Homo sapiens: one gene and its partners. The protein of the gene in region 1 interacts with the protein of each later gene in a biochemical or structural test. Each region holds a gene or a part of one and is shown in the gene's direction. Other genes may lie near its edges.

Evidence for each region.
Region 2: the proteins of AKT2 (region 1) and SH3RF1 form a complex in vitro, tested with the Homo sapiens proteins (2 studies listed by BioGRID and IntAct, with this or other methods).
Region 3: of the proteins of AKT2 (region 1) and PIP5K1C, one has a biochemical effect on the other in vitro, tested with the Homo sapiens proteins (one study listed by BioGRID).
Region 4: the proteins of AKT2 (region 1) and APPL1 form a complex in vitro, tested with the Homo sapiens proteins (one study listed by BioGRID).

The regions. Positions count from the first base shown.
Region 1 is NC_000019.10:40,240,325-40,247,347, reverse strand, and holds part of AKT2 (RAC-beta serine/threonine-protein kinase), read left to right. Parts: intron 1-4,660; coding exon 4,661-4,814; intron 4,815-5,278; coding exon 5,279-5,410; intron 5,411-7,023. UniProt on the Homo sapiens protein: Serine/threonine kinase closely related to AKT1 and AKT3. All 3 enzymes, AKT1, AKT2 and AKT3, are collectively known as AKT kinase.
Region 2 is NC_000004.12:169,267,953-169,275,222, reverse strand, and holds the start of SH3RF1 (E3 ubiquitin-protein ligase SH3RF1), read left to right. Parts: upstream 1-4,266; 5' UTR 4,267-4,364; intron 4,365-5,915; 5' UTR 5,916-6,010; coding exon 6,011-6,403; intron 6,404-7,270. UniProt on the Homo sapiens protein: Has E3 ubiquitin-protein ligase activity. In the absence of an external substrate, it can catalyze self-ubiquitination. Stimulates ubiquitination of potassium channel KCNJ1, enhancing it's dynamin-dependent and clathrin-independent endocytosis.
Region 3 is NC_000019.10:3,641,461-3,648,483, reverse strand, and holds part of PIP5K1C (phosphatidylinositol 4-phosphate 5-kinase type-1 gamma), read left to right. Parts: intron 1-1,097; coding exon 1,098-1,146; intron 1,147-2,425; coding exon 2,426-2,510; intron 2,511-4,232; coding exon 4,233-4,397; intron 4,398-5,102; coding exon 5,103-5,241; intron 5,242-5,544; coding exon 5,545-5,577; intron 5,578-6,674; coding exon 6,675-6,779; intron 6,780-7,023. UniProt on the Homo sapiens protein: Catalyzes the phosphorylation of phosphatidylinositol 4-phosphate (PtdIns(4)P/PI4P) to form phosphatidylinositol 4,5-bisphosphate (PtdIns(4,5)P2/PIP2), a lipid second messenger that regulates several cellular processes such as signal transduction, vesicle trafficking, actin cytoskeleton dynamics, cell adhesion, and cell motility.
Region 4 is NC_000003.12:57,230,712-57,237,734, forward strand, and holds part of APPL1 (DCC-interacting protein 13-alpha), read left to right. Parts: intron 1-2; exon of another isoform or gene 3-53; coding exon of another isoform or gene 54-56; intron 57-4,854; coding exon 4,855-4,953; intron 4,954-6,780; coding exon 6,781-6,840; intron 6,841-7,023. UniProt on the Homo sapiens protein: Multifunctional adapter protein that binds to various membrane receptors, nuclear factors and signaling proteins to regulate many processes, such as cell proliferation, immune response, endosomal trafficking and cell metabolism.

The DNA.
Region 1 (7,023 bases):
TGCTCTTGAGAATCAAGCGAGGTGGTGTCTGGAGCTAGCCACTCAGTGCTGTTATTTTTACAGTCGTGGTTTACCCAGGGGCTCTCCTCTGGGGGCTAGAAGATACTTGAGGCCCAGCTTCATGGGGAGCTCCCCTTTGCCCCAGACGCCATGTTGCAAACCCTTGAGAAGGATCCTGGACAGAGGCCCTTGCTTTTCATCTGGAATTCTGAGTGCTGCAACCTTGCAACTTTGGTCCAGTTAGAATTGGATCGGAAGCTAGTCAGGCAGCAGGCGAGCCCCAGTTACTCCCAGATAACCTCCTGCATTGCTGTGGTTTCTGGAGCTTTCTGTAGGGTGGGCAGTGGGAGCCAGGGTAGGTGGGGTAGGCCCGCCCCTGCGAGTGTCTTCGGCACCCTCCCTTCCACCCCGCCCTGCGCGCGGTGCTCTGCGCCGACAGCCCGCCAACCTCTTAGCCCCAGGCCCAGGCCCTGGTGGAGGGGAGAGCTGGGAGGGCTGAGCTGGTCCAGGTGGCAGAGCCACTCTTGGAGCCCCAGCTGGGGTGGGTCCAGGGCCTGTGCTCCTGATTCCCATCTGGAGTAGCCTCCCAGAGCTGCTTCTGGGCTGGTGGTGTGGCAGTGCCATCCTTCATGTATTTGGGTTCTCTCCACAGAGGGACCATCTGTGTTCTCTCCACCCCTGTCTTTGAAAACAAAGATGATACCACGCTGTACATCTTAGTCTGCAATCTGCCATCTTCACGTGACAGTCTCTCAAGATCTTTATATATGAGAGACATATTTTCCTTTTTAATATCTTCACTGTATCTCTTAGGAGATCTGTGATTTTTTTTTTCCCAATCCGCCATCATTTACTCAGAGTCAGCATTAAAAAAATTTAAAATTTGTGAGAGGACAACTATGTCTGATAAAGCATGTCATGGAAGGCTGGGCACAGCAGCTCACACCTGTAATCCCAGCACTTGGGGAGACCGAGGCAGGCAGATCATGAGGTCAAGAGATCGAGACCATCCTGGCCAACATGGTGAAACCCTGTCTCTACTAAAAATACAAAAATTATGGTGGCGGGTGCCTGTAGTTCCAGCTACTCTGGAGGCTGAGGCAGGAGAATCGCTTAAACCTGGGAGCCACTGCACTCCAGCCTGGCAGCAAAGCGAGACTCTGTCTCCAAAAACAAAAAGAAACAAAAAAGAAAAAAGCCTGTCATGGAATGGGCTCCTGCCCTGTCCCCGGCCCCTGCTTTTTTTTTTTTTTTTTTTTGAAAAACAGGAATATTAGTGTAGGGTTTGGGAATTAGGCTGTAATTTGTTCCTAAGGGGGCATGGGTTAAAGCAAGTTGAGAAATACTGGCTTGAGATGTTGGGCCAGGGAGTGCAGAAGCCAACACCGCTCTGCCCGGGTGTGCACCAGGGCTCAGTGCGTGCTCTGCCCGGGTCTGCACTGGGCCCTGCTGCGCCCTGGCCCTGGGGCCACTTGGACTTTGGCTGCCTCACTCTTTCATTACCCAAGTATCTACTGAGTATCCACCATGAGTTCTGGGGGCAGAACTGTGTTCAAAGCAGGTGGAAATCTCTGCCTCCGTGGGGTGGACATAGATGGGTTATGGGGACTCCAGTCTCTGAGTGGGTGGGGAGGGCAGCGTGCCTTTTGTAATTCCAGCTACCAAGCCTGGAGCAACTGCTGTTTTTCTGGAATCTGTTTTTTCAATCTGTGCCCCAGTTCCTCCTTCATAATGGGTGGGAGTAGGGATAGTTGATGATAGCAAGTGCTTCCCATTTGTTATTAGAGGCTGTTCCTTTCCTTCGACTCCCAGTTCCCCTCCCTTGGAGGCAGGCAGGGCTCCAGGATCATGACTTCTCTTCTGGAGATGTTTGTGCCTATGTGAGCATGTGTCTGCAGAAGTTCATTATTTTCTAACTTAGGAGCACAGAACTGTATACTGTTCTTCACCTTCCTTAATTTTGAAATTTTTTATAAAGGCGTGGTCTTCTTATGTTGTCTAGGCTGGTCTGGAATTCCTGGGCTCAAGCAGTCCTCCAGCCTCTGCCTCCTAAATTGCAGGGATTACATGAGTGAGCTACCTTGCCCATCCCTGCACCTTCCTTTTTCTCTTAAGAAGTCTCAGATCATCCCAAGTCAGCATACAGACCTGCCTCAATCTTTCCCCCAGCTGCAGAATGTCTCATTGCACAGATGCCTCACAGGCATTCTACCTCACGACAGCCTGTGTATTAAACACTGCTGTGATATTTCATCAAATCGAAGGCGCTGTCATTGGGGAGGCACCCTGTTTCATATAGTGCCAAGAAAAAGGCGTGCCCAGTTAAATCAAGACAGACCCCAACTGTGAGATTAATCTGCATTCCAGCAGTGTCAAAATGTGGAAGAGGGTGCGTTGTGGGATGGATGGAAATAGAAGTAGTTTCGCGTGGTACACCAGGAAACGAGACTGGGGAGGAATACAGCCCAGCAGGGTGTCCCGGCTTGGATTTTGAAGCCCAGTCCCAGCCACACTTGTTCCCTGCCTGACCTTGGGTAGGGGCCCCAGTGTCTCAGGAACACAGGAGCAGTGACACTTGCCCTGGGGCGGGGGCCATCCTGGAAGATGCTGTGAAGGGCTGGCTGCACTCCCTGTGGCTTATTTAAATCACTGGGATTTGCGTGATTACACTCTCTGAATTTTCTCATTCTTAGTGAACATTTTATTTTTCTTGTTGGTCATATGAGTATTTTCTAGATACAAGCAAAATACACGGGGGGTTCAAAATGCGTTGGGTTGAAACACCTAATTGCAGTGTGGTCAAAAATGGGGGATGTGGACAATTTGGTGTAATTCAGCCTAATATATTTTTCATTTTGGTCTCTGGTCATTTTCACTTATTAGACAGAACAGTTTGTAAGTATCCAAAGAAAATTATTTTGTTTTTTTTTTAGCTGATTGCAGTGGTATGATCATGGCTCACTGCAGCCTCCACCTCCTGGGCTCAAGCAGTTCTCCCACCTTAGCCCCCTGAGTAGCTGAGACCACAGGCATGTGCCCCCACACCTGGCTAATTTTTTATCTTTGGTCTCTACAAAGTGGGTATCCATGTTGCCTAGGCTGGTCTCAAACTTCCGGATGCAAGCCATCGTCCCGTCTCAGTCTCCCAAAGTGCCAGGATTGCAGGTGTGAGCCACCGAGCCCAGCTCAAAGACAGTTCTTTCTCAGCAAGTTCTAAACCATGAGTGACAGAACTAGTTTATTGTTCTTTATTTTATTATTATTATTATTATTATTATTATTATTATTATTTTATTATTATTTTGGGATGGAGTCTCGCACTGTTGTCCAGGCTGGAGTGCAGTGGCGCGATCTCGGCTCACTGCAACCTCCGCCTCCCGGGTTCAAATGATCCTCTTGCCTCAGCCTCCCGAGTAGCTGGGATTACAGGCGCCCGTCACCACGCCCGGCTAATTTTTTGTATTTTTAGTAGAGACTGGGTTTTACTATGTTGGCCAGGCTGGTCTCGAACTCCTGACCTCAAGTGATCCTCCACCTTGGCCTCCCAAAGTGCTGGGATTACAGGCGTGAGCCATCGCACCTGGCCTGTTTTTATTTTTTATTTTTGTTTTTTAAAAACTTTTTAAGAGATGGGTCTTGCTTTGTTACCTAGGCTGGTCTTGAACGCTTCGGCTCAAGCACTTGGTCCACCTTGGCCTCCCAAAATGCTGGGATTACAGGTGTGAGCCACAGTGCTTAGCCTCTAGTTAACTGTTCTTAAACCAGGCTCCCTTCTGCTGGGACCTACTTCTTGTCCACCAGCTTCTCTCCTCTACATCCCTGGGCTGCCAGGACCTCTGTCCCTGCCATGCAGACTCCCTGCTCCCAGTGGACTGTCCCCTCCAGGGAGTCCTGCGGGCCAGCTCTTGCCTTGCAGTGTCTTCAGCTCCTTTGGCTAATGAATGCTGCTTCTTACTCTTGGTTTAACTTTACAAAACATTGGTAACTTATAAACTTGAGCTTGTCATTTGTTCCGAAGAATTCACAGGAGCACTCTCTCTCCCTCATTCAAGGCTCAGGGTGGTGGCTCATTTTCAAGGGGCTGTGAAAAGAGAGGGTCACTCCTTTTTGATCATTTCCCTGCTGCCTGGCTTCAAATGGCCCTCAGGCCAGGTCACTTTAGGGAAATTGGTGATCGCTCTTGGTATTCCACTTTTTTTTTTTTTTTGAGACGGAGTCTCGCACTGTCACCAGGCTGGAGTGCAGTGGTGCGATCTCTGCTCACTGCACCCTCCGCCTCCCGGGTTCAAGCAATTCTCCTGCCTCAGCCTCCTGAGTAGCTGGGATTAGGCGAATGCCACCCCTGACTAATTTTTGTATTTTTAGTAGAGACGGGGTTTCACCATGTTGGCCAGGCTGGTCTCGAACTCCTGACCTTGTGATCCATCCGCCTCAGCCTCCCAAAGTGCTGGGATTATAGGCATGAGCCACTGCGCCTGGCGTGGAATTTCACTCAGGTCCCTTCAGCTCTCTCTGGTTCTGACAGATCTTGCCCAAATTCCCATGGTTATGTGGTCATTTGCTTGCCTGTTGCTGGGGGTGGCTGGGAGGTGGCACTCAGCTGTTCGACTCTGAGGCCCAGGACTCCTGGCTGCTGGGACTCACGTGTGTCCCTGCACAGGGAGGAGTGGATGCGGGCCATCCAGATGGTCGCCAACAGCCTCAAGCAGCGGGCCCCAGGCGAGGACCCCATGGACTACAAGTGTGGCTCCCCCAGTGACTCCTCCACGACTGAGGAGATGGAAGTGGCGGTCAGCAAGGCACGGGCTAAAGTGGTAAGTGCTGGGAGCAGGGGTGGGGCTGCCAGCCTGCGGTGCCCCCACCCCCAGTGCTGGCCTGCTCTCCTTGGTTTCCATAACACAGTTCAGGGGGCTCAGCTGAGAGACAAGGCTGCCCTGCAGGGTGGGGTGATTTCAGGTGGCAGGTGCCCTAGGGTGTGCTCCATGCCCGTAGGGGAGGGAGCAACCTTGGGTGGACCCACTGCAGGTTCGTCCTGGGAGTTGGTGAAGACCTGGCTACCCCCACGTCAGAGCCCAGCCCTCCCAAGGCCCTGTGCCTGCAGAGCCTGGTCTGAAGGCCGCTTCAGAACACACAGTTGCTGCCCAGAGCCTCCCTTCCTGCTCCAGCCTAAGCCGTTTGGCAACAGTGTCTTTTGGTTTTCCTCTTTCTTTTGTTAAAATTTCCTCCCACGGGCCATGAGCCAGGCGCTGACTGCCCCCACTCTCCCTGTCCCTGGCAGACCATGAATGACTTCGACTATCTCAAACTCCTTGGCAAGGGAACCTTTGGCAAAGTCATCCTGGTGCGGGAGAAGGCCACTGGCCGCTACTACGCCATGAAGATCCTGCGGAAGGAAGTCATCATTGCCAAGGTGCGTGCCCCGGGAATTGCGCTCGCGAGCCTCTGTGGGGGCTGCGGTCTGGAGCCTGACCCTGAGGCCTGGACGCTTACCCGCGCTTTCTGCTGCTGTGGGCTTATTTCCCCCACAAATTCCCCCTAGTCAGAAAAGGGGGAGCCTGAGGCCCAGAGAGGAGCAGCAGGCCTTGCTGCTGAGTCCCCACCTCCACCCTATGTTAGGGGCTGGGGGTGCCTGTGGAGAGAGAGAGCCTCGGGGCCCCACCCAGCAGGTACTGTCAAGGGAGGCTGGGGCCTGTTGGGGAGGACGTCGCTGTTGGGGAGTCCCGGGCTTTGCTCAGGGTATCCCAGGTGGAGGCCGGGCCAGGAGTGGAATTCTACTTTTTCCCTTATTTGAATTTTTTGTAGTGGAAGATTCCAAAGACATTCAAAAATTTAAAAAGAAAATAAATATTACGGACCCCCATGTAGCCATTGTCCAGTTTAACCAGTTATCAGCGTTTAGCCAGCCTTGTTTCCTTAGCTCTGCCTGTCCCTCTTGTTCTGGAATACTTTAAGGCCTGTCCTAGACAACACGTCACTTCACTCATCCATACTTGAACATGTGTCCTGACAGATGAAGACTGTAAAGAATATAATCATGTGGTGCTGCCATCAGAGCCAACCAAATTAGCTGTTCATTCCTGATGTGACGATTGGGCCTAAGGCAGCCTTCCTCAGCCTCAGCACTGTTAACGTTTTGGGACAGATGATTCTGCGCTGTCGGGGCAGCCCTGTGCATTCTAGGGTTTCAGCAGCACCCCTGGCTTCTACCCACTGAAGCCAATACTAGCTCCCCAAGTTGTGACAATCAAAAATGACTTTTGGGTTGGGCGCCACAGCTCACGCCTGTAATTCCAGCACTTTAGAAGGCTGAGGTGGGAGGATCGCTTGAGCCCAGGAGTTCGAGACCAGCCTGGGCAACAAAGCAAGACCCTGTCTCTGTAAAAATAAAAATAAATTAGCTGGGCATAGTGGCGTGCACCTGTAGTCCCAGCTGCTCAGGAGGCTGAAGTGGGAGGATCAGTGGAGCCTCAGAGGTTGAGGCTGTAGTGACCCATGTTCACACCACTGCACTCCAGCCTGGGCGACAGAGCCAGACCCCCAGCTAAAAAAAAAAAGGGAAAAAAAAAAAAAAGACTTCAGACATTCTCAGGTGTCCCCTGGGGATAAACTTGCCCCAGAGAGAGCCTGTGTTCACGTTGCTGCAGGTGGCTCCAGATTTTTGGAACCACTCCTGGTGGTTCTGCTGTACAGTCAGGTACCAAATTAGAACCTGAATTAGAGTCACCCAAAGGGCTTGTGAGACAGTGCTGGGCCCACCCCGAGTTTCTGACTCAGTGGGCCTGGGGGTAGGTCCCAGGAATTTGCATTGCTGCCAGTTCCCAGGCGGTGCTGAGGTGCTGTGTGGGGACCACACCAAGAAGCACTGTTTTTCCTTCTTTGGGCAAGAATGCTTTCTAGGTGGGACTTCCCACAGCCTGTGGTGGCACCTCGGGGCTCTCGTGATGTCTGTTTGTCTCCCTTGCAGGGACGTCACAGGTGTCTTGTCCCTAGCAGCCTGGTCCTTACATTGTGACATTCCTGCTG
Region 2 (7,270 bases), on another chromosome or scaffold:
TGATAGTTTATAAGAAAGACTCTCAATGGAACTTGGAACATTGCTTGCCTGATTTCCCATCTGTAGGGCAGTGAGGTACTAAATATCTATGTAGATTTAGGATAGCAAGAAATGTAACTGTATACTTGATTAACTCCTTATTTGAGAATTAGTTACTGGAACCCACTATGTGTTGGCTGTGAAGGACGTAATGGTAAAGAAGACAGACCCAGTCACTGACTTCAGGGAACTTATATTCAGGTAAAGAAGATAGGCAATAAATAAGGAATCAAAAAAATTAGACCACAAAAAGTGCTGCAAAGAAGACAGAAAGAGTACTATGCTGGGATGCAGTGGTGCAGGGTCCAAGTGGCAGTGAGTCTTGTAAGACAAAGACTATGTTTGACTCTAAATTTCAGGCATGATGGGAAGTAATTGATGAGTTTGGAGCAATGTAGTAACTGATATGTTATGCATTTTTTGTTGCTCACTCTGAATGTTACTACATTCTGGGCGAGATTATGGGGACAAGAGTGGAAACAGAGAGGCTGGTTTAGGACGGACAGAGACAAAGGGTGATGGTGGCTTAAATAAACTTGCACTGGAGGCAAAGGAAAGTGGGTATAAATTGAAATATATTTTGGGAGAAGCTAGCAGAATTGATGGAGAGGAAAAGGGAAATCAAAGATGACCCCTAGGTTTCTAGTTTGAACAACTGAATGAAGAGTGCTATCATTTACCAATATCATGGCAACTGGAGAAGAAACAAGGTTTGAAGGAAAATGATAATCAGACACATGTATATATATCCGTGTGAAAGCATAGTACCAAAGTTTACCAAAGAGTGCTCTGGATTGGATATTTAAGTATCTGATTTTTGTCACCACTTAGAGCAATAACTTATCTACATCTTGTTGTTTCCCGTCTACATGGAAATAATCATATCTGTCTTTACCGCTTCTGAGGGATGCTGAGAAGACAGATGAGATAATATATATGAAAGTCCTTTGAAGTCTTGGGAGGATAAGAACTGTGTAAACGCAAGCTATCATTATTATGTCACAGGGTGTGTTTTATGTTTTTCATGGTTCTACTCAAAGTCACAGGGATCTTAAGCACAACATGCTTACATTCCTTCCTTCATGTTCAGTTCCCAGACATGAAAAGATGAACATGCTTCTCTTCCCCAACTGCCCCTTTCCCTATATTATTGACAGGACTTTGCAATTACTAGAATTATACCAAACTTATTTATTTATTTGAGACAGAGTCTTGCTTTGTCACCCAGACTGGAGTGCAGTGGCGCAATCTCGGCTCACTGCAACCTCCACTTCCCAGGTTCAAGCAATTCTCCTGCCTCAGCCTCCCAAGTAGTTGTGATTCCAGGTGACTGCCACCATGCTTGGCTAATTTTTTTTTTTTTTTTTTTTTTTTTGTATTCTTACTAGAGACAGGTTTTCACCATGTTGGCCAGGCTGGTCTTGAACTCCTGACCTCAGGTGATCCACCTGCCTCGGCCTCCCAAAGTGCTGGGATTACAGGTGTGAGTGACCGTGCCTGGCCTATCCCAAACTTTTTTAAGACCCTGGGAAGAAAGGACTTTGCCCAGAATAACTGCCTGGGTGATTCTTGGCAGATTATGATAATGATGCTATCTGACTTTAATAGAGATATACAGATTACAAAGAACCAGCATGTTGTCTCATCTAGTCATCCCACAACACTCTGAGAAAGATATTTTTTTTTTCAACCATTTGACAGAAAATGGCTCAGGAGGTTAAAGTAACTTGCCTAAAACTTCACTTTACAGCTGGAGTAACTAAAGCTAATAAAAGTGTTGTGTTCTAAAAACTATAGAACATGCACCAGGGGCATTCAAAGAACTGCAGCCACATCCCAGATAATATTCATGAGATGTATGCCAGATTCTTCGACCACTGCAGTCTTGGGACACACTGTCTTCAGTTCTTTGAAAACGGGTGTGGCCAGGCGCCGTGGCTCACGCCTGTAATCCCAGCACTTTGGGAAGCTGAGGCGGGCAGATCACCTGAGGTCACAGGAGTTCGAGACCAGCCTGACCAACATAGAGAAACCCCGTCTCTACTAAAAATACAAAATTAGCTGGGTGTGGTGGGTGCCAGCCTGGGCAATAAGAGTGAAACTCCGTCTCAAAAAAAAAAAAAAAAAGAAAAGAAAAGAAAATGGGTGTGACTATTGATTTTCTTTTGCCAGGAGTTTCAAGAGCTGCACCATTCTATCTATGACCTTGTGTGCTGCTCTCTAAAAATACATAGGAAACCAAAATAAGAACACAATAAAAACTGTCCCTTGCTTTCGAGTAATTACATGATTAACAGTTTCTTCTTTCCCTTGGGAAGAGACACACTGCTTTGCTTTGCCTAGGGTGGGGATATGACGGTCCTGTGCAAAAGACAGGGCCTTGGAATGGTGCAAAGAGAACTGGACTTGGAATCCAGAGAGCTGGGACTGAGTCTTGGTTCAACATTACTTACTGTGTGACCAGGGGAAAGTTAACCTATTTGAGCTTCAGTTTTAATAACTGCAAATAATCCCTATCTGTTTATTGACTGTAATCTTCTGGTCAGCCTCATCTTCATCTATCTGCCCAGTTCCACATGCAGAACTAAGTAGTAACTTTCAGTTTGCAAACTGGACTAGAAATTCTCCATTCCATTCATTCCTTCCGTCGTCTTTCTCAGCTCAAATGCCCATGTATTTGCTCACTTCTAATGGAAGGGGAAGTGGGCTATTATTTTTGGTTTTCATACATTATGACTCTCAGCATATGAATCTATTTAGAACAAGGCTGAGAAAAGATGACATAGAGGGTTGCTGAGAGAATTGAACTGATGCATGAAAAATGTTCAGCACAGTGCCTGATTTACAGTGAGTGATCATTGTTAGCTGTCATAATTTTTTCAGGCTTATGTGATCCTTATGTCTTGAATGGTTTAGCTGTGGCCCTAGCTGGAGACTAGAGGATAAACTGAGACTCCTCGTCAAATCATAAACCTAGTTGGTGGCTGGGCAGAGATTTCTTGCATCATCTGTTGTAACCCTTTCTTCTTATAACCACCTAGTTTCTGCCCACCTTTGAGGAGGGGTATTTGGGATAACTTTTTGTAAATTGATGGTAAATGCAAATATAGTAATGTCAACTTTAGATCAGTGACAAAATTTTAACTTGCTTCTCCACTAAATCGAGACTGAAAAACCTCAAAACCTATGGACAAGATGTTTTTCAAAACTCCACTTCGGTTTACAGGTGTGTGCTTGGGGCAACCAAAACAAAGATTACTGCGATGATGGCAGCCACCCAGGCTCAGATAAAAGAGGCGCCTCTCAGCGTGCTTTGCGGTGCCAGCCCACCTGAGGTCAGACTCAATTCTCCCCACTTAGGGCAGGGATAACAGAGCCCCCGAGCCTGGGTTGGAAGTCCGTACTACCGTTTTCCTAGTCTTGGGCTTTGGGGTCAGCGGTCCTCCAGGCTTGCTCCGGTTTGGGTCCTGGGGTGACTGATGGCTGGGTGCGGACAGGTGGCCGCGGCACTGTCCCCATCGATTCACCACGCCGCTCTCGGCCCTAAGGGGCAACACTTCGCTCCGACTCTACCAAGTAAGTGTCCGGGGTGGGCAACCAGACGCAAAGCGCAGCGGGATCGGTTCCCGCCAGGGCTGCTCCCGCCGCCTCCGCGGACCCAGCCCCTCCCGCGCCGCGACTCGCCCAGCCTGGGGAGGAAGGGTCCGTCCAGGGCTCCCAGCCCCGCCGGGGGGAGGAGGAGGCGGCGGGACCCTGTCCCGGGGCTTCTTCCTGCTTCCCCCAGCCTCCACTCCCGCCGCCTTCCCGTCCGGTGGCTCCATTTTTCAGGCGCGTTCTCCTCAGGGAGAAGGCGTCCGTCCCCGAGCCTTCCCCTCGTAGTCCCCTGGGGGCCCCGCTCCCCATCCTCTAGGCTCTTGCAGCGCCCCCTCAGGCCGCCGCCCCAATCCCGCCCCCGGGCTCCGGCGGGGTACTGGGCGCAGGTCACCTCAGCGCGGGAGGCCGGCGCGGCGGCGGGTGGCTCCGAGAGGTGCCGCGCCCGCTCCCGGGGAAGGCGCTGTGGCGCGGGGCCGCCCCCTTGCGCCCCGGGCGCCGGCTGCGTCCCGGCCTCCTCCTCCTCTTCCTCCGCCCTCCTTGGCTGGGAAAGTGGGAGGCGGCGGCGGCGGCGTGGTGTGTGTGCGCGCGTGAGGGGGGCAGCAGAGAGGAGTCTCCCGGTGCCGCCGCGGCGTCAGAGACACTGCGAGCGGCGAGCGCGGTGGGGCCGCATCTGCATCAGCCGCCGCAGCCGCTGCGGGGCCGCGAACAAAGAGGAGGAGCCGAGGCGCGAGGTAGGGCGCGCGGCCGGCGCGGGGTCGACGGGGACCCAGCGTCGGCGGACCCCTAGCCGCGGAGAAGGCGGTGGTCTCGACATTCCCCCATCCCCGCCCTGGGTCGGTCTCTCTCTCCCCTCGCCCTCGGGTCCCCGTGGGCCGGGAATCAGGACCTGCGGAAGCGGAGCAGCCCGCGGCCTCTGCCTTCTCCGGGCAGGAAGCTGCCAGGGCTCCGTGCCGCGGTCTCCCCGGGCGCAGCCCAGCACCCCCTGCTTCCCGGATGGCGCGGTCTCTCTGGGGACTGTCGCCTTATCTTGGCTGGGCTAGAAAGCTGCTTCCCCGTGGCACTCTGTGGGGCTGAGTTTCGCAACTTAAGCCTGCGCATTTATTTTTAAGTCCTTGAAAACTTCCCGCAGTCGTGTAGAGGGATTTGTGTCCCCGGCCTGAGCTAAAGGGAGGCGGAGATGAGGGAGGCTGTAGGGTGAGATCCCCACGCCGGGACCGGCCGGGCCGCAGCCCCAGGCCGCGACCGGCTCCTGCCGGGTGCCGCCGACACCTGGCCCCGGGGTGTGTCTGCGGCGAGCGGCCGCCGCGCCTCCCTGCGGGCTTGGGAGTACCTGTGCTTGGCGCCGTGGGAGCGGGGGTGCAGCCCTGGGGCTCCCCCGCTCCGGCTTTGTCAAGAACAGCTGTTAATGCTCCCAGCCAAATCTTTTTACTCCCGTTCTCCTGGGCATTCACTTTTACATTTATTTTGGCGGTGGGGGGAGAGCGGCGCAGTAAGTGGCTTGCTTTTTCCTGAATGGCCTCATTTTCATATGCCCACAGTTTCCAGTCCAACCTTCCATTGTCGAATTCTTTTGGTGATAATTTTGCCAGCTTTTCTGAATGGGATTAGGACAGGCCGTTCAGAAATGTGTTTCAGAGTTTATCAACTACTGCCCTGAAGGGCGCTTTTCTGTTTTAGCTGCTTTCAAGCAAATCTGTGTCTTTTAGAATTGTCAACCTTCAGCTCTTTTTGGTTGGGCAAAATTAAACAGTTCTATTTTTAATAACAGCGAAGAAACATATGTATTTAATATTGGGATCATTTACCACGAGCGATTACATGAGGCATGGTTTCTTAAACGCTAAAGTGGCTTAAAAAAGGGAATTTAGTTGGATATAAAAGTAAATTTCAGGTAGAGGAAACTTTCAATGGCCTCTGTCAGCTTCTCCTATGAGTTGAAGACTTTATTAAGGCAGCTGATACCACTTTCAGAGCTTAAGAAATTATGTTCCTTATTGCACTTCATAAATCCTTCTGCGGGAATTATGTAATACTCTGTGCCTTGTGTTTGCCCAGTGAATCCCTAGATATCTTTAGGGGTTAATTTTGCGTTGTTTAGAAAGCCTGTTTTGTTTTCAGTTGTTGACTTTGGAGTTTAGGAACCCACATTCCAAAGCAAAGCTACACTATTCAGACAGGGAATAGTGTACTTTTGGGTACTTTTTGATTCTTGGCTCCTTTGAACTTTTTCCCTAGATAACAACACTCATGTTCTCTTTTCCCCCTTTTCCCCATGACTCTAGAGCAAAGTCTGAAATGGATGTTACATGAGTCATTTTAAGGGATGCACACAACTATGAACATTTCTGAAGATTTTTTCTCAGTAAAGTAGATAAAGATGGATGAATCAGCCTTGTTGGATCTTTTGGAGTGTCCGGTGTGTCTAGAGCGCCTTGATGCTTCTGCGAAGGTCTTGCCTTGCCAGCATACGTTTTGCAAGCGATGTTTGCTGGGGATCGTAGGTTCTCGAAATGAACTCAGATGTCCCGAGTGCAGGACTCTTGTTGGCTCGGGTGTCGAGGAGCTTCCCAGTAACATCTTGCTGGTCAGACTTCTGGATGGCATCAAACAGAGGCCTTGGAAACCTGGTCCTGGTGGGGGAAGTGGGACCAACTGCACAAATGCATTAAGGTCTCAGAGCAGCACTGTGGCTAATTGTAGCTCAAAAGATCTGCAGAGCTCCCAGGGCGGACAGCAGCCTCGGGTGCAATCCTGGAGCCCCCCAGTGAGGGTAAGTAGCCTACAGAGGTAGTTTGGTGAATAAAGGTGGTAATGTCCACATTTTTTCTTTATTCTTTAGCTTGGTGTTTTCGAAGTCAACTCATTGCTTAGGAAACCATACATACTGGAACAGATAGATTATACCTCTGAATATTTTTTTCCCCCATCTTGGAATGAGATTGGATATAAATAATAAATTTTATTGTTTTGAAAATTATCTCTAGATAGTCTCTGTTATCTTTTAAGATAAATTTTGGGAAACAAGTAGCAATTAGTGAATGAAATCTAAACCAGCTTTTGTTCTGTGCCCATTTTAAAATGGAAATTTGGTATTTTATCATTTTGATGGGGCTCAGAGTCATAATTACATGTATGTAGTACATATGTAGTATATATGTTGTAAGTATGTGTGTGGGTAAATCATAAATAGGAAATCAAGCCTTAATTTTTATGTTGCTTAGAATCATTCTATTGGTTTTATGAATACACAGCACAGAATTTACTCGTTGGTGGAATTCTTAACAAATCATGGCTACAGGTAGCAGAGTTTCGTTGCTGTAGCAACAAAATGTCACTTAGGACTACACTAAAACATCTAGCTTTATGTTGGGCTTTATAGTGAATGAAATGAAGTATTTCCATCGAAATGATTTTTCTTGGGATTTGAGTTTGGGCTGAAATAATTTTAGATGAAGCTAATTATTTGGACAGCTACCACAACTGTCACACAAAATTTCTGTATTTATTAGAAATATATATAAATAATCTGTATTTATTAGAAATATAGGTATTTCTAATAAATATAAATTATGTTGCAGGTGATGGATTCCTGATAAAATGTGCTTTCTCATTTTTGCAAAAATAAAAAGTAGTCAAG
Region 3 (7,023 bases), about 37 Mb from region 1:
GTGGATGGGCGCCCCCAGGACACCCATGCACAGAGGCGCTTGCCCGTGGAAACAGCCGCACCAGCAGCTCTCGGGGCTTCCTCAACCTGGAAAGCTCTTGCTTGGCTGCCCCTTCTTGAGCCCTAAAGGGAAGGTGTTTGGTCGCCTTGAAAATCTAGAGTGAGTTGGGCGTAGTGGTCCACACCTGTAATCTAGCACTGTGGGAGGCCGAGGCGGGAGGATTGCTTGAGCCCAGGAGTTTGAGACCAGCCTGGGCAACATAGCAAGACCCCATCTCTACAAAATATCAAAAAATTAGCTGAGCGTGGTGGTGCTCCTGCAGTCCCAGCTACTTGGGAGGCCGAGGCAGGAGGATTCCTTGGGCCCAGGAGTCTGGGGCTGCAGCAGTGAGCTATGATGGCCGTACTGCACCCCAGGCTGGGTGACAGAGCAAGACCCTGTCCCAAAAAAAAAGAAAAAAGAAAATCCAAGGAGTGGGTTTGAGGCCTCACTTTGGGGCTCGAATATTTGTTTTTTGGTTTTTCATTTGTTTGTTTTAAGACAAAGTCTCGCTCTGTCACTCAGGCCGAAGAGCATTGGTGCGATCTTGGCTCACTGCAACCTCTGCCTTCTGAGTCGACCCTATTCTCCTGCCCCAGCCTCCCCAGTAGCTGGGATTACTGGCACGCGCCAGCACGCCCGGCTAATTTTTGTATTTTTAGTAGAGATGGGGTTTCACCATGTTGGCCAGGCTGGTCTTGAACTCCTGATCTCAGGTGATCTGCCTGCCTTGGCCTCCCAAAGTGCTGGGATTACAGGTGTGAGCCACCGTGCTCAGCTGGGGCTCTAGAATGTTTAAAAACAGTCACCCCCTCGGTACTATGGACATTGGGACCAGATGGTTCTCTGGGGTGGGGCCGTCCTGGGCCCTGCAGGGTACTGAGCAGAGAGCCTCCACCCACTCCCTGCCAGGAGCACCTGCCACCCTGAGTTTTGACAGCCACGACTGCTTGAGGCCATGGCCCAGTGTCCTGGGGGGTGCACAGTGGCCCCTGAGTGAGGTGGCCTGGCATGGGCTTGGCTGATGTCAGCTGCCACTCCGGGTGCTCTCTCCACAGGTTCATCAAGAAACTGGAGCACACCTGGAAGGCCCTCGTCCACGATGGGGTGAGCGCCTGCACCCTCCTCCCATTCCTCCTCCCATCCCTCCTCCTCCTGTGAGTGCCTGCACCCTCCTCCCATCCCTCCTCCCTCTGTGAGTGCCTGCACCCTCCTCCCATCCCTCCTCCCATCCCTCCTCCTCCTGTGAGTGCCTGCACCCTCCTCCCATCCCTCCTCTGTGAGTGCCTGCACCCTCCTCCCATCCCTCCTCTGTGAGTGCCTGCACCCTCCCCCCATCCCTCCTCCCTCTGTGAGCGCCTGCACCCTCCTCCCATCCCTCCTCCCTCTGTGAGCACCTGCACCCCTCCTCCCATCCCTCCTCCCTCTGTGAGCGCCTGCACCCTCCTCCCATCCTTCCTCCCTGTGAGCGCCTGCACCCCTCCTCCCATCCCTCCTCCCTCTGTGAGTGCCTGCACCCCTCCTCCCATCCTTCCTCCCTCTGTCCTCCTGTCTGTCGTCCCAGCCTTCCTCCCATCCGTCACTCCACAAACGCAGAGTACCGCCTGGGGCCAGGCACTGAGGACTAACGTCTGTGTGACCACAGCCTGTAGAATCCAAGATCCCAACAGGCACCCCCATTTTTCAAAAGAGCGTGTAGAAGGTCCAGGCAGGAGCTTCCAGAATAAGCCTTGAGCGGGTCAGGATGGCAGCTGGCAGAGGCCTCTGGGGATGTCTTAAACCTTGCCAAGGCCCGGAACCTGCTGCCCAGGGCAGATAGGAGCGCTGTCTCGGCTCTGACGAGGCTGGCCAGGGTGTCCTGTGCTGCCGCCGCATGTCCCTGGGGTTGTCCTTGTCCCCTGGCCCAGAGTGGCCGGGCACCACCTCCCACTGCAGCCTGCGGGGGTGGAGTCGTTCACAGTCCTGGTACGTGGCCACTCCTCACCCAAGGAGGCTGGGAAAGGAGGTTGCATTCTGGGAGGCCGAGATCACATCCCAGCAGGGCCCCAGCCAGGCCATCCTGCCTCAGCCTCCCCTACAAGTCCACGTGGGCCACTGTGCCTGGCCGGAATACTTTATTCAGCTGGTTTAAAAAGTCAAAAATGCTAACAGGTCTCTAGTGGAAAAGCCTCCACCCATTCCCTGGCACCCAGTCTCCCTCCCCAGAGGGAGCCACTGTTCCCTGTTCCGTGAGCCCCTCCCAGGAAGCCATGGCGCCATGGACCCATCTCGAGCCTTTTCACACAGAAGGTGCCCCCCACACACATACAGCGTCTGTCTGGGGCTGTCCCCAGCTGTTGATTGATGCACCCTCTGCCCCCGGGCACCCCCCCCAACTCTCTTCCAGGACACGGTGTCCGTCCACCGCCCCAGCTTCTATGCCGAGCGCTTTTTCAAGTTCATGAGCAACACGGTCTTTCGGAAGAACTCCTGTAAGCCACCTGAGCCCCGCAAGGCGGGAGGGACCCTGGGGAAGGCCCAGAGCGCCGTGGGGCAGGAGGGACTCTGCGGGAGGCCGAGAGCCCCCTGGGCAGGGCAGTAAACTCAGAGCCCCTGTGCCCCCCTCAGACCGGGCCTCATCCGGAGGTAGGGTAGTCGGGATATTTGCTCTGCACAGCGGTAGAGCACGGGTCTGGAGCCACCGCCAGAGCCTGAATCCTAGCCTGGCCTCGTCCTGCCCATGTGGCCTTGAGCAGGCACCTGCCTCTGTGCCTTGGTTTCCCCATTGGCACAGCACTGTGAGGGTACAGTGTTTATATATGGGATGGGTGGGCCTGACTCAGCAGATAGCTCACAGTGTGTGGGGCTGCCCACAGCATCACCATCGCCAAGGAAACGCACCCCGGGCAGGGGAACGCAGGAGGCTAGCCCAGCAGGGCATGGTCGGGAAGGTCCCAGGGCAAACAGTGGTGGGGAAGGTGGGGACTCGGGATTCACCCACAGGGTGCCCGGGGGAGGTCCCCATCTCTCAGGGCTCAGCTTCCCCTCATGGGCCACTGTAGCATCTGGACGCAGACTCTGGGTTCCAGGCCCCTGTGCAGACCTCAGCCCGTGGCCAACCTGCTGCCAGATGGATTCCCCCCTGGGGTCTGTTTCTCAGCCACCCTCCCCACCAGAAGGCTCCCGGGCTCCCCAGCATCCTGCACAGGCCTGGCCCACAGAGATGCTTGGGAAGTGTCTGGTGGGGGGCATGAATGATCTGCGGGTCCGCACCCACGGGGGTTGCAGGGAGGTGGCAGGGACAGGCACGCCAGTGCCCAGCGCTTGCAGGCAGGCTGCTCTTCCCGGCCTGCACACTTGCTCACGGCCTCGAGGTCAGGGACCCCCTCTCATCAACACCGTGGGAATTGGCAGACACCACGTGTCAGGATCTGTCTCCAGAGAGCCAGCCGTTGAGCCTGTCCCCACACCCCACTCTCTGGGACCGATGCCACAGGATCATTCCGTCATCCAGGGCTGTTTGCCAGCCTTTGGTGATTGTAGGAAGCTGCACAAGGCAAACTGAGCACCTACTGTTTACCAGGAGCTGTGTGGGTCATTCTGGGGGCAGAGGTCACAAGAGCTTGGTGAGGAGGCAGAGCTCACACAGCACTGAGGACAGGCCTGGCCCTGTGCGGGACATCACCTGCCCCACCTCACCCCACCGCTAAGGTCGGCCCCCAGGGCCCAGAGAGACCGAGCCGCACAGCCAGCGGGTGAGCCTGGATCTGCGCTCAGGCCCTACATGCTGAGCCACAGGCTTCTCTAACCACAACACCTGGTGCTCCCCAAGGCTGTCAGTGTCCATCTGAAAGTGGGGGCCCTGCCCGGGCTGGGCCGCACATAGAAGGGGTTGAAGCCTGCAGGCATCCCTGGCCAGCTCATTAGATGGGAGTCACTGGTCTGCAGGATCCCAGGAGGGGCAGGCACTGTGCCAGGTCCCAGTGTGTCTCATAGAGACAGTCGGGTGGGCAGGACAGGGAACTCGGGCTCGCAGTCCCTCCCCAGGCAGACCCCGGTTTTCCACCAAGAGGTTGTGGTGCTTCCTGGCCTCAGGGACCGGTAGGGGTCTGGTGGGCCACAGGGACGTGGGGTATATGTGGGCGGCGGCCCTGTCTGGGCTTTGCTATGAGCCCCCAGCAACCCCAAGCACCAACCCCCACCCTTCCCTGCAGCCCTGAAGTCCTCGCCCTCCAAGAAGGGGCGCGGCGGAGCCTTGCTAGCTGTGAAACCGCTGGGGCCCACCGCTGCCTTCTCGGCCAGCCAGATCCCTAGCGAGCGGGAGGAGGCCCAGTACGACCTGCGGGGGGCCCGCAGCTACCCCACGCTGGAGGACGAAGGTGAGGGGCAGAGGGCAGAGTGCGCTTGTGGGCGCTACAGGGGGTGCCAGCAGCAGCCCCGTGGGTGGGGTGCCGCCTCATCCTGAGTGCCCATCGCTCAGCCACCCCCTCCGGATCTGCAGGGCCGCCTGCCCAGGGAGTGGGGGCTGCTGGGACCGCCCCAGGGAAGAGCCCAGGGGGAGCTGAGTATAGAAGGCTCCACCAGGTGGGGTGGTGACAGCTCCCGCCTTCTCTCACGGCCACTGTCATCTGAGGTGCACCAGGATGCCATCGAAGGCATGCAGCCCCCAGGCTAGGGAATGAAGGAAGGGACATAGCCATGCAAGGGCCCTGGGGCAGGACCACACCTGCTGAGGGAACAGCAAGGAGCCCGTGTGGCCAAGCAGCGCGGAGGGGAAGGGAGGGGGGGTGGGGAGGGGAAGAGAGCAGTGGAGGGGAAGACAGCGGGGAGGGAGAGTGGAGAGGGGACGGGGCCAGGCTGCACAGGGCCCTCTGGGCTGTCTGGATTCTATTTTGAGAGCGGTCAGAAGCCTTTGTGTGAGGGGGAACGTCGTCCTTCCCTGCCGTGTGGGGAGGTGGGAGTGTCTGGGAGGCGGGCGGGCACTGGGCTGTGGGTTCCCAGGGTGAGCCAAGCCTCAGGGAGAATCGACTGTGTGTTTGGGGGCTCGGAGGCTCCGCAAGGTGCCCACAGTCCTCTCCCCTCAGGCCGGCCCGACCTCCTGCCCTGCACGCCACCTTCTTTCGAAGAAGCCACTACAGCCTCCATTGCCACGACTCTGTCATCCACATCCCTCTCCATTCCTGAGCGGTCCCCCTCGGAGACGTCGGAGCAGCCGCGGTACAGGTGGGCGAGGCATCCGCAGTGCATGTGGGCGGGGCATCCGCTGTGCGTGGGGGCGGGGCATTCACTGCATGTGGGCGGGGCATCCGCTGTGCATGTGGGTGGAGCATCGTATGTACGGTGGATGTACATACACTGCATGTGGGTGCGCGGGGGCGGAGCATCCAATGTGTGGGAGGGAGGAGCATATGTACAGGTGGGCAGGGCTGCCAGGGGGCAGGTAGGCAGGCGGGTAGGCAAGGCAGGTAGACTGAGCAGGCGGGCCACTCTCTTTCTGGGTGTCACGTGTTTGCTGTATCTCTGCAGGCGGCGCACACAGTCGTCTGGACAGGATGGCAGGTGAGACCCAACCCCCTTCCTTCCCTGGGTCTCACCAGCTCCTCCTGCACAGCTCCCAGCTCCGTTTCCCGCCCCCCAGCCCCTCTGCTCTCTGCCCATTCTCTCCTGGGGACAGATTTAAGATTGTAGCACTCGGCCCTAGCACCGCACACAATCTTCCAGCCACTTTGTTTTTCTTACAGCCAGAGCCAGGGCAGCTCTGGTCTGTGGATCCTTCCTTATTTCTTCTTCTATTAAGTTTTTTTTTTAACTTAAAACAAGATACAAGAGGGAATATCGTGAAATGCGCCCCCTCCTGCCCACGGCCTGTCCCCTCCCCAGGAGCAACCACTGGGACTGTGGGTTTTGTCTCTTGGAAGATACTTTCTGGGAACACAGCAGACGTGCACCAGGCTTGTGGTTCCCTTTTATTTTGACACAAATGGGCACACCCGTGCACGCCGCCCACACCTTGCTGTTGTCACTCGACTGACGGGGATCTCAGGGGTGGGTGCGCGCCGTTCCTGTCACGCCTGCGTGCCGTCCTTCCATCCCATGGACTGCACCTGGCTTTAAGTGCCCAGCCCTCGGGGACATTTGCGAGGTCCCTGGGGTCTCACTCTTGTGAACACTGGGGCAGTGGCGCGGTGTTGCTTTTCTTAACCGTGTTTTAATCGCTGCCGCCTGGTGAAAGAAACCCCTTGGTGCCCTGGGTGGGATGTGACCCTCCCTGCAGTCTAGCGTGCCATTTGGAGAGACATGTTACATGGCCAGGCCCGGCGGCCGGGACACTGAGTCACTTGTGTCAGGGCCTCGGCTGCCAGGTGCAGGCACTGCCTGGAGGGTGGGCAGGGTCTGTGGCACCCACACCGGTCGGGGCTGCCATTTGCTCATATGCCCCCAGAGCCCGCTACACCCCAGGCCCTGCTGGCACCACAGTCACCAAGGGACCCAGGTGGACAGTCCCCGGGCTGGGAGTGACAGCCAGAAAGAACAGACCCAATCAGGAGGCTCCCAACTCCCCTCTGGGACTGGCCCTGGAGTTCACTGGGCACTCCTGGGGGTAGGATGGGGGAAGTGAGGAGGGAAACCGAGGCACAACCTCCCATTGCCTGCAGGCCGCAGGAGGAGCCACCCGCGGAAGAGGATCTGCAGCAGATTACAGTGCAGGTGGAGCCTGCGTGCAGCGTGGAGATTGTGGTCCCCAAAGAGGAGGACGCAGGGTGAGCACGGCCTCGGCGGGAGGTCGGGGCGCCCACCTGCTGCGGGCCCAGAGGAGCCAAGAGCACCCCGAGGTTTCATCATGAAGCAGTTCTTTCTTACTAGGTTGTATTCACAGATGGTGGATTTTCCCATAAGTTTATTTTTTGATTGAAGGGAGTGGTTCTCGACTAGCCGGGGTGATCCTAGCCCCCAGGGGACACTGGGCGATGCCTGGGGACATTTGTGACTGTTAGAACTGGGGGG
Region 4 (7,023 bases), on another chromosome or scaffold:
AGAATAGAGTCCAAGAAGCAGAGCAGCAAAGAATATGAAGACTTTTAAAGCTCATGGTAAGTTTTTTGTTTTTTTTTTGAGACAGAGTCTCACTGTCACGTAGGTTGGATTGCAGTGGCACAGCCATAGCTCTGAAACCTCAAACTCCTGGGCACACGCCACCAAGCTCAGCTAATTTTATTTTATTTTATTTTTATTTTTTGGAGATGGAGTTTCGCTCTTGTCGCCTAGGCTAGAGTGCAGTGGCATGATCTTGGCTCACTGCAACCTCCACCTCCCGGGTTCAAGTGATTCTGCTTCCTCAGCCTCCCAAGTAGCCCAACTAATCTAAAAATTTTTTGTAGAAGACTGGGCGTGGTGGCTCATGCCTGTAATCTCAGCACTTTGGGAGGACGAGGCAGGTGAATCACGAGGTCAGGAGTTTGAGACCGACCTGGCCAACATAGTGAAACCCCGTCTCTCCTAAAAATACAAAAAATTAGCCGGGCGTGGTGGTGGACGTCTGTAATCCCAGCTACTCGGGAAGCTGAGGCAGGAGAATCACTTGAACCCGGGAGGCGGGGGTTGCAGTGAGCCGAAATTGTACCGTTGCACTCCAGCCCGGGCAACCGTGCGAGACTCCGTCTCAAAAAAAAAAAAAAAAAAAAAGAAAATTTTTTTTTTGTAAAGACAGGTTTTCACTATGTTGGCCAGGCTAGTCTTGAACTCCTGGCCTTAGTGCTGGGATTACAGATGTGAGCCACTGTACCAGGCCCTAAAAGTTTTTTGTTTGATTAGTTTTTAATTTTTTTTAGATCATTTAGATCTAATCAAAAGTGGCCTGCCAGTTGCTACCTAAAAAAGAGCCTTGGCCTGGCACAGTGGCTCATGCTTGTAAACACTTGAGGGTGGGGGTTCAAGACCACCCTGGGCCAAATAGCAAGACCTCATCTCTACAAAAAATAAAATTAGCTGGGCGTGGTGGCATGCACCTGTAGTCCCAGCTATTCAGGAGGCTAGGGCAGGAGGATCGATTGAGTCCAGGAGTCTGTGGCTGCAGTGAGCTATGATCACACCACTGCACTCCAGCCTGGGTAACAGAACGAGGCTTTGGCTCTTAAAAAAAAAAAAAAAAAGAGCCTGGGAGTGATGGAAGACTATCCTGAATTACAGTTACCCTTCTTTTAGTTTTGATTTATAGTAACTACGTATTAAATTAGGGAGAATTTGCAAGTCCAAAATCCAGCTGATCAAACAAGCATCTTTTAAGAATACTGCCTGGAACCTAGGTGGGGAAAAAGCATGTTTGGAATTACCTTGCCCAAACCAGACAGTTCTGCAAAAGATCATCCATTGAGCCAGAAAATCTTAAGCTTATAGTAGATGCCTTGTCCATATTTATATGTTGTTTTGAAAATCAAAATCAAAATAAACCTTGTTAATTACTAAGAACAGATAATGATCTTTAGAAAATTAATTGATTTTATATGTAGATATGTATCTTAGTGATTCATCTATGATAGAACAGTGAAGACAAACCCCAGTCCCAAATGGGATCTTCTGTTTTTGCATAATATGAATTAATCATGAGATGTGCCTTTCCTCCCAACATTTTGATGTCTCTGATTGGGATTCCTCTTAGAGTTGATGGTATATTAACAATTGCTATCAGCCAGGTAGCAGTAGTAATGTATTTCACATTGCCTGCAAATGTACATACTTGGTTGTTTCTCCTAGTAGCATACTGGCCAAGTGTAGTCTCTCAGTGTTCAACTAACAGATCAATTTTGCCACCATTTGAGAAAGGAATATCAGTCCTGGTTGTTGTCCGAAAACCTTCTTTTGACACCTGGTGAGATGTCAAATGACATCATCAAAATTTGCTGAATGAGTATCAGTTTCTTGGAAGAAAATATTAGGGACAAAAATGGAGTACTTCTAAGAAATACTTACCTCCTCATGGCACAGAGAATGATAATGTATAGGAAAACATGCATATTGATGACTCTCGAGTTGAAAAGTGGTTCATGGGCCCGGTGCGGTGGCTCACGCCTGTAATCCCAGCACTTTGGGAGGCCGAGGCGGGCAGATCACAAGGTCAGGAGATCGAGACCATCCTGGCTAACACGATGAAACCCCGTCTCTACTAAAAATACAAAAAATTAGCTGGGTGTGGTGGCTGGCACCTGTAGTCCCAGCTACACGGGAGGCTGAGGCAGGAGAATGGCATGAATCCGGGAGGCGGAGCGTGCAGTGAGCCAGGATCACACCACTGCACTCCAGCCTGGGCGACACAGTGAGACTCTGACTCAAAAAAAACCAAAAAACAAAAAAACAAAAAAGAAAAGTGGTTCATAAGATTCGAACTCTGTGAAGTTTTAGAAATAAATTTATGATGCTTATATTTGTTATGTTTACATGAGAGCTGTATATGATAAAATTCTGTGTGAAGGTCTGTTTTCATAAATATAAGGTAAAAAATTCAAGACATAAGAAAACCTTAAATCATAGCTTAATTGCCAGCATTGTTTTGTTTGAGTAGTACAAAAATGAAAATGATGCATCTTACAATGGATACCATCGTAGATTTGATGAAATGGTACCATATTGATTCTATTTTTTAAGCTACTAACTTTAAACAAACAGCAATTATCCAGTGTTGAAGTTGATATTGTTAGCTTAAAATAGGGAATCTGTTTCAACTTGCTTTGCGCTAAGAAGAGCTTTTAAATTTAATTATGCTACAAGTTTTTACATAAATATGTAACTCCTTGAATTGGAATTACCCATTTTTAGAAAAAAAAAAAACAAAACAGAAACGAAGCGGCAGATTTTTTTTAAGAATGGCACTAGCCAAACAAGATTTCCTGATGCTTTCTTTTTTACATCTTAAAATAGCACTATATGGAATTGTAGTGGAGTGTTTGAAAAATATTCTGTCAAATCTAAATCTCTGAGGCCTGGGGAAGTGGAGGACTGAAAATAGGGACTTACTGGCATCATGATTTTGTGTCCTTTCCCCTTCTTTATACTATATTGACTTAGCTTCCTCCTCTGAAAATAGGAAGCTAAGGAATAAGTTGATTTAAGAAAAAAAAATTTTTGGCCATGTGTGGTGGCTCACACCTGACCTGTAATCCCAGCACTTTGGGAGGCTGAGGTAGGAGAATTGCTTGAGCCCAGGTGTTTGAAACCAGCCTGAGCAGCATAGTGAGACCCTGTCACTACAAAAAATAGAAAAAAAGTAGCCAGACATGGTGGCACATGCCTGTAGTCCCAGCTACCTGGGAGGCTGAGGTGGGAGGATTTTTTGAGCTCAGGAGGTCAAGGCTGCAGTGAGCCGAGATCATGTTACTGCTCCAGCCTGGGAGAAGAATGAGACCCTATCTCAAACAACAACAGCGACACCCACAACAGTTTCTAAGGCTGAGGCATAAATTATTTTTAGAATAAAAATATATCTTTTAGATTTTAAGCTGCAGTTATCTCCAGTAGTTATTGGTATTTTCATTCTTCCCCTGGGCCTTTGGGATGTAATGTGAGTATGTCTACCTTGCCTTTGATAGCCTTAGTTTCCTTATCTTTGACAAATTTTTATTGACATTCTTTTTTTTTTTTTTTTTTTGAGACGGAGTCTCCCTCTATTGCCCAAGCTGGAGTGCGGTGGCATGATCTCGGCTCACTGCAAGCTCCGCCTCCCAGGTTCACGCCATTCTCCTGCCTCAGCCTCCTGAGTAGCTGGGACTGCAGGGGCCCGCCACCATGCCTGGATAATTTTTTTGTATTTTTAGTAGAGATGGGGTTTCACCGTGTTAGCCAGGATGGTCTCAATCTCCTGACCTCGTGATCCACCCGCCTCGGCCTCCCAAAGTGCTGGGATTACAGGCGTGAGCCACCGCACCCGGCCTGACATTCTTAACATTTACTTATAAGCTTTCCCCCTTAAAATAAAGATAATTTAAAAAAATTTTTTTATTTTGAGACAGAGTCTTGCTTTGTCGCCCGCCCAGGCTGAAGTGCAGTGGCGTGATCTCGGCTCACTGCAACCTTCACCTCCCAAGTTCAAGCTATTCTCTTGCCTCAGCCTCCTGAGTAGCTGTGACTACAGGCACGTGCCACCACACCCGGCTAATTTTTTGCATTTTTAGTAGAAACGGGGTTTCACTGTGTTAACCAGGATGGTCTCAATCTCCTGACCTCATGATCTGCCTGCCTCGGCCTCCCAAAGTGCTGAGATTACAGGCATGAACTACTGTGCTCGGCCTAAAATGAAGATAATTTTTAAATGTGCATGGTAGAAAAATGACAAAACAAAACAAAAGCCAAACAATATAGACATGTATAAAGAAGAAGAAAGGAAAACCCCCAAATTGTGCATTCGGAAAAACCTAGTTAGCATTTTATATGCTGAAGAGTCGGCCATGTTGGGGAGGGTGTACTGTGGTATTTTTAGATTAGGACAGGAAGGGGTTTGGCCTCTTCTAGCAAAAACTGTAGAAGAAATAATCATACTAAATTATCCTGAAGTAAGACATTTAAAATATTTATACTACATGGAATGCTGTTAATTTAGCTTTGAACGTTTCTGTTGATTTGTTCTTAGTTTATAGAATTTTTAGTTTATGAAAATATACCTCTGTTGTTTCTCCTAAAGTTTGTGTGACATAGTTGGAAAATACCTCTGCTTTGTTGAAGTGAAACTAAGAACAAAAAAAAAAGACTTCTTAACATTACTATCAAAAGAGACAAAATAGATTAAAACTCAGAATTACTAGAACTTTAATATCCTACGATTTTTGCTTCCTTTAGAAAAAATATTTTTCCATCTGATTTGTATAATGATTAACATAAACTTATTGCTATTGTTTTATACAGACAAGGTCTTTACTAGGTGTATTTGAAGAAGATGCCACAGCTATTTCCAACTATATGAACCAGTTGTATCAAGCTATGCATCGGATTTATGATGCACAGGTAAAACACTAAGGACTAACTTGATGCTTTTAAAACACGAATCTTTAAGCCTCATGAGGACAGATAGTGTCTGTCTTGTTTACCACTGCTTTAGCCCTGTGTTAGGCTCATAGTAATAAATATTTGTTGAATGGATTAATGAACATTGAGTGTATTACAGAACTGACATTTCAACTACTAGTGTACAGTTTGTAGTACTACAAAAGTGATAGACGATTGAAGCATCTGCCCATTCTCCCCAAACATAGTTTGGGGGGAACCCCCCATTAAACTCACTGATAGTGATCTTTCCTAAGATTTGAATGAAGACCCCATGTCATCACTGGTATTTTCCCTAATCATGCTTATTACAATCTTATGGAGCACTTCCCCACCCCCACTTTTTTTTTTTTTTTTTGAGATGGAGCTTTGCCCTTGTTGCCCAGGCTGGAGTGCAGTAGTGTGATCTTGGGTCACCACAACCTCCACACCCCAGGTTCAAGTGAGTCTCCTGCCTCAGCCTCTCAAGTAGCTGGGATTACAGGCATGCACCAGCACGCCTGGCTAATTTTGTATTTTTAGTAGAGACAGGGTTTCTCCATGTTGGTCAGGCTGGTCTCGAACTCCCGACCTCAGGTGATCCGCCCGCCTTGGCCTCCCAAAGTGCTGAGATTGTACCCAGCCCCCTTTTTTTTTTTTTTGGAGATGGAGTTTTGCTAATGTCTCCCAGGCTGGAGTGCAATGGTGCAATCTCAGCTCACTGCACCCTCCACCTCCCAGGTTCAAGCAATTCTTCTGACTCAGCCTCCTGAGTAGCTGGAACTACAGGCATGCACTACTACGCCCAGATAATTTTGTATTTTTAGTAGAGGCAGGGTTTCACCATGTTGGCCAGGCTGGTCTCGAACTCCTGACCTCAGGTGATCTGCCCGCCTCGGCCTCCCAAAGTGCTGGGATTACAGGCGTGAGCCACTGCACCTGGCCAACACTTTCCCTTTTTCAGTGGAGGATTTGAAAGTTGGCTGCCTCTGTCTAGTTAAAAGAAGGCACTAAAAATTAGATGTACCTCTGGAGTACAAGAAGATGAAGGGTATGACTAAGTTTTCTTATTGACCAGCAATAAAATTTGAAGCTATGTTTGGATAACTTAATTATAAGCTTAAACAGCAACCTAGGTTCTGTAATATACTTTCTTTGGGATTAATTAAGCGTACAAGTTTTATTTTTTTCCCTTCTCATATTGTTTGCTTTCTGGCTTCACATTTTCATTATGTACTTAAGAGTTGCTATGTTGTTGTTTAGTTTTTCCTTGTGATCAGGCTCTGAAGCTTTGCTTTCTGACTACAGAGATATATGATTAATATGTTAAAGAAATGTTCTCTTTGTTATATTCACCAAAAAAACTAAATTAAAGTTTTTCATATGGCTGTGTTGCTATGTTATATGACTGGGTCAACCACATTTTGGTTGTATGTTATTAAGTGCTTACTGTAGTCTAGTATCAGCATCTACAGAGGGCAATAATCAGTCATCAACGTAGATGCTCTAAAGATTTTGCTAAGGTTATATCAGTTTATTTCTAGGCTTTAAAGTATTTAGTGCTTAGTTTTTATTAGCAAAAAACAAACACCAGGAACACTGCTGAATTCCTGGAGAGTGTCTATTTTATGGTTTGAGTTTTCTTTTAAAGTGCTTTAATGGTAGTACCCCTTTCCAGTGATTTAATGAAGGTTTTAAAAAACATGTACAATATTTATGTTAAGTGATAATAAATAAATTAGGTATTTAATTAGAAAAAACTAAAACTTTTTTCCCAGTAATATGCTAATTTGAATGCTTTTTCCATAGAATGAATTAAGTGCAGCAACACACCTGACCTCAAAACTTTTAAAAGAATATGAAAAACAGGTATTGTATATCAAAGTTTTAAAAGCATAATTTTAAAAGTATAGTATCTGTATAGATAGACTTTCAACAAGAATCCTTAAGTTTTCTTGAATTCACAGAATATGCCATTGAAATTTCATGATAGCACTTATGTTCAGATAATTTTAATGATTTAATATTAAATACAGAGGCTATCTAGTTTAC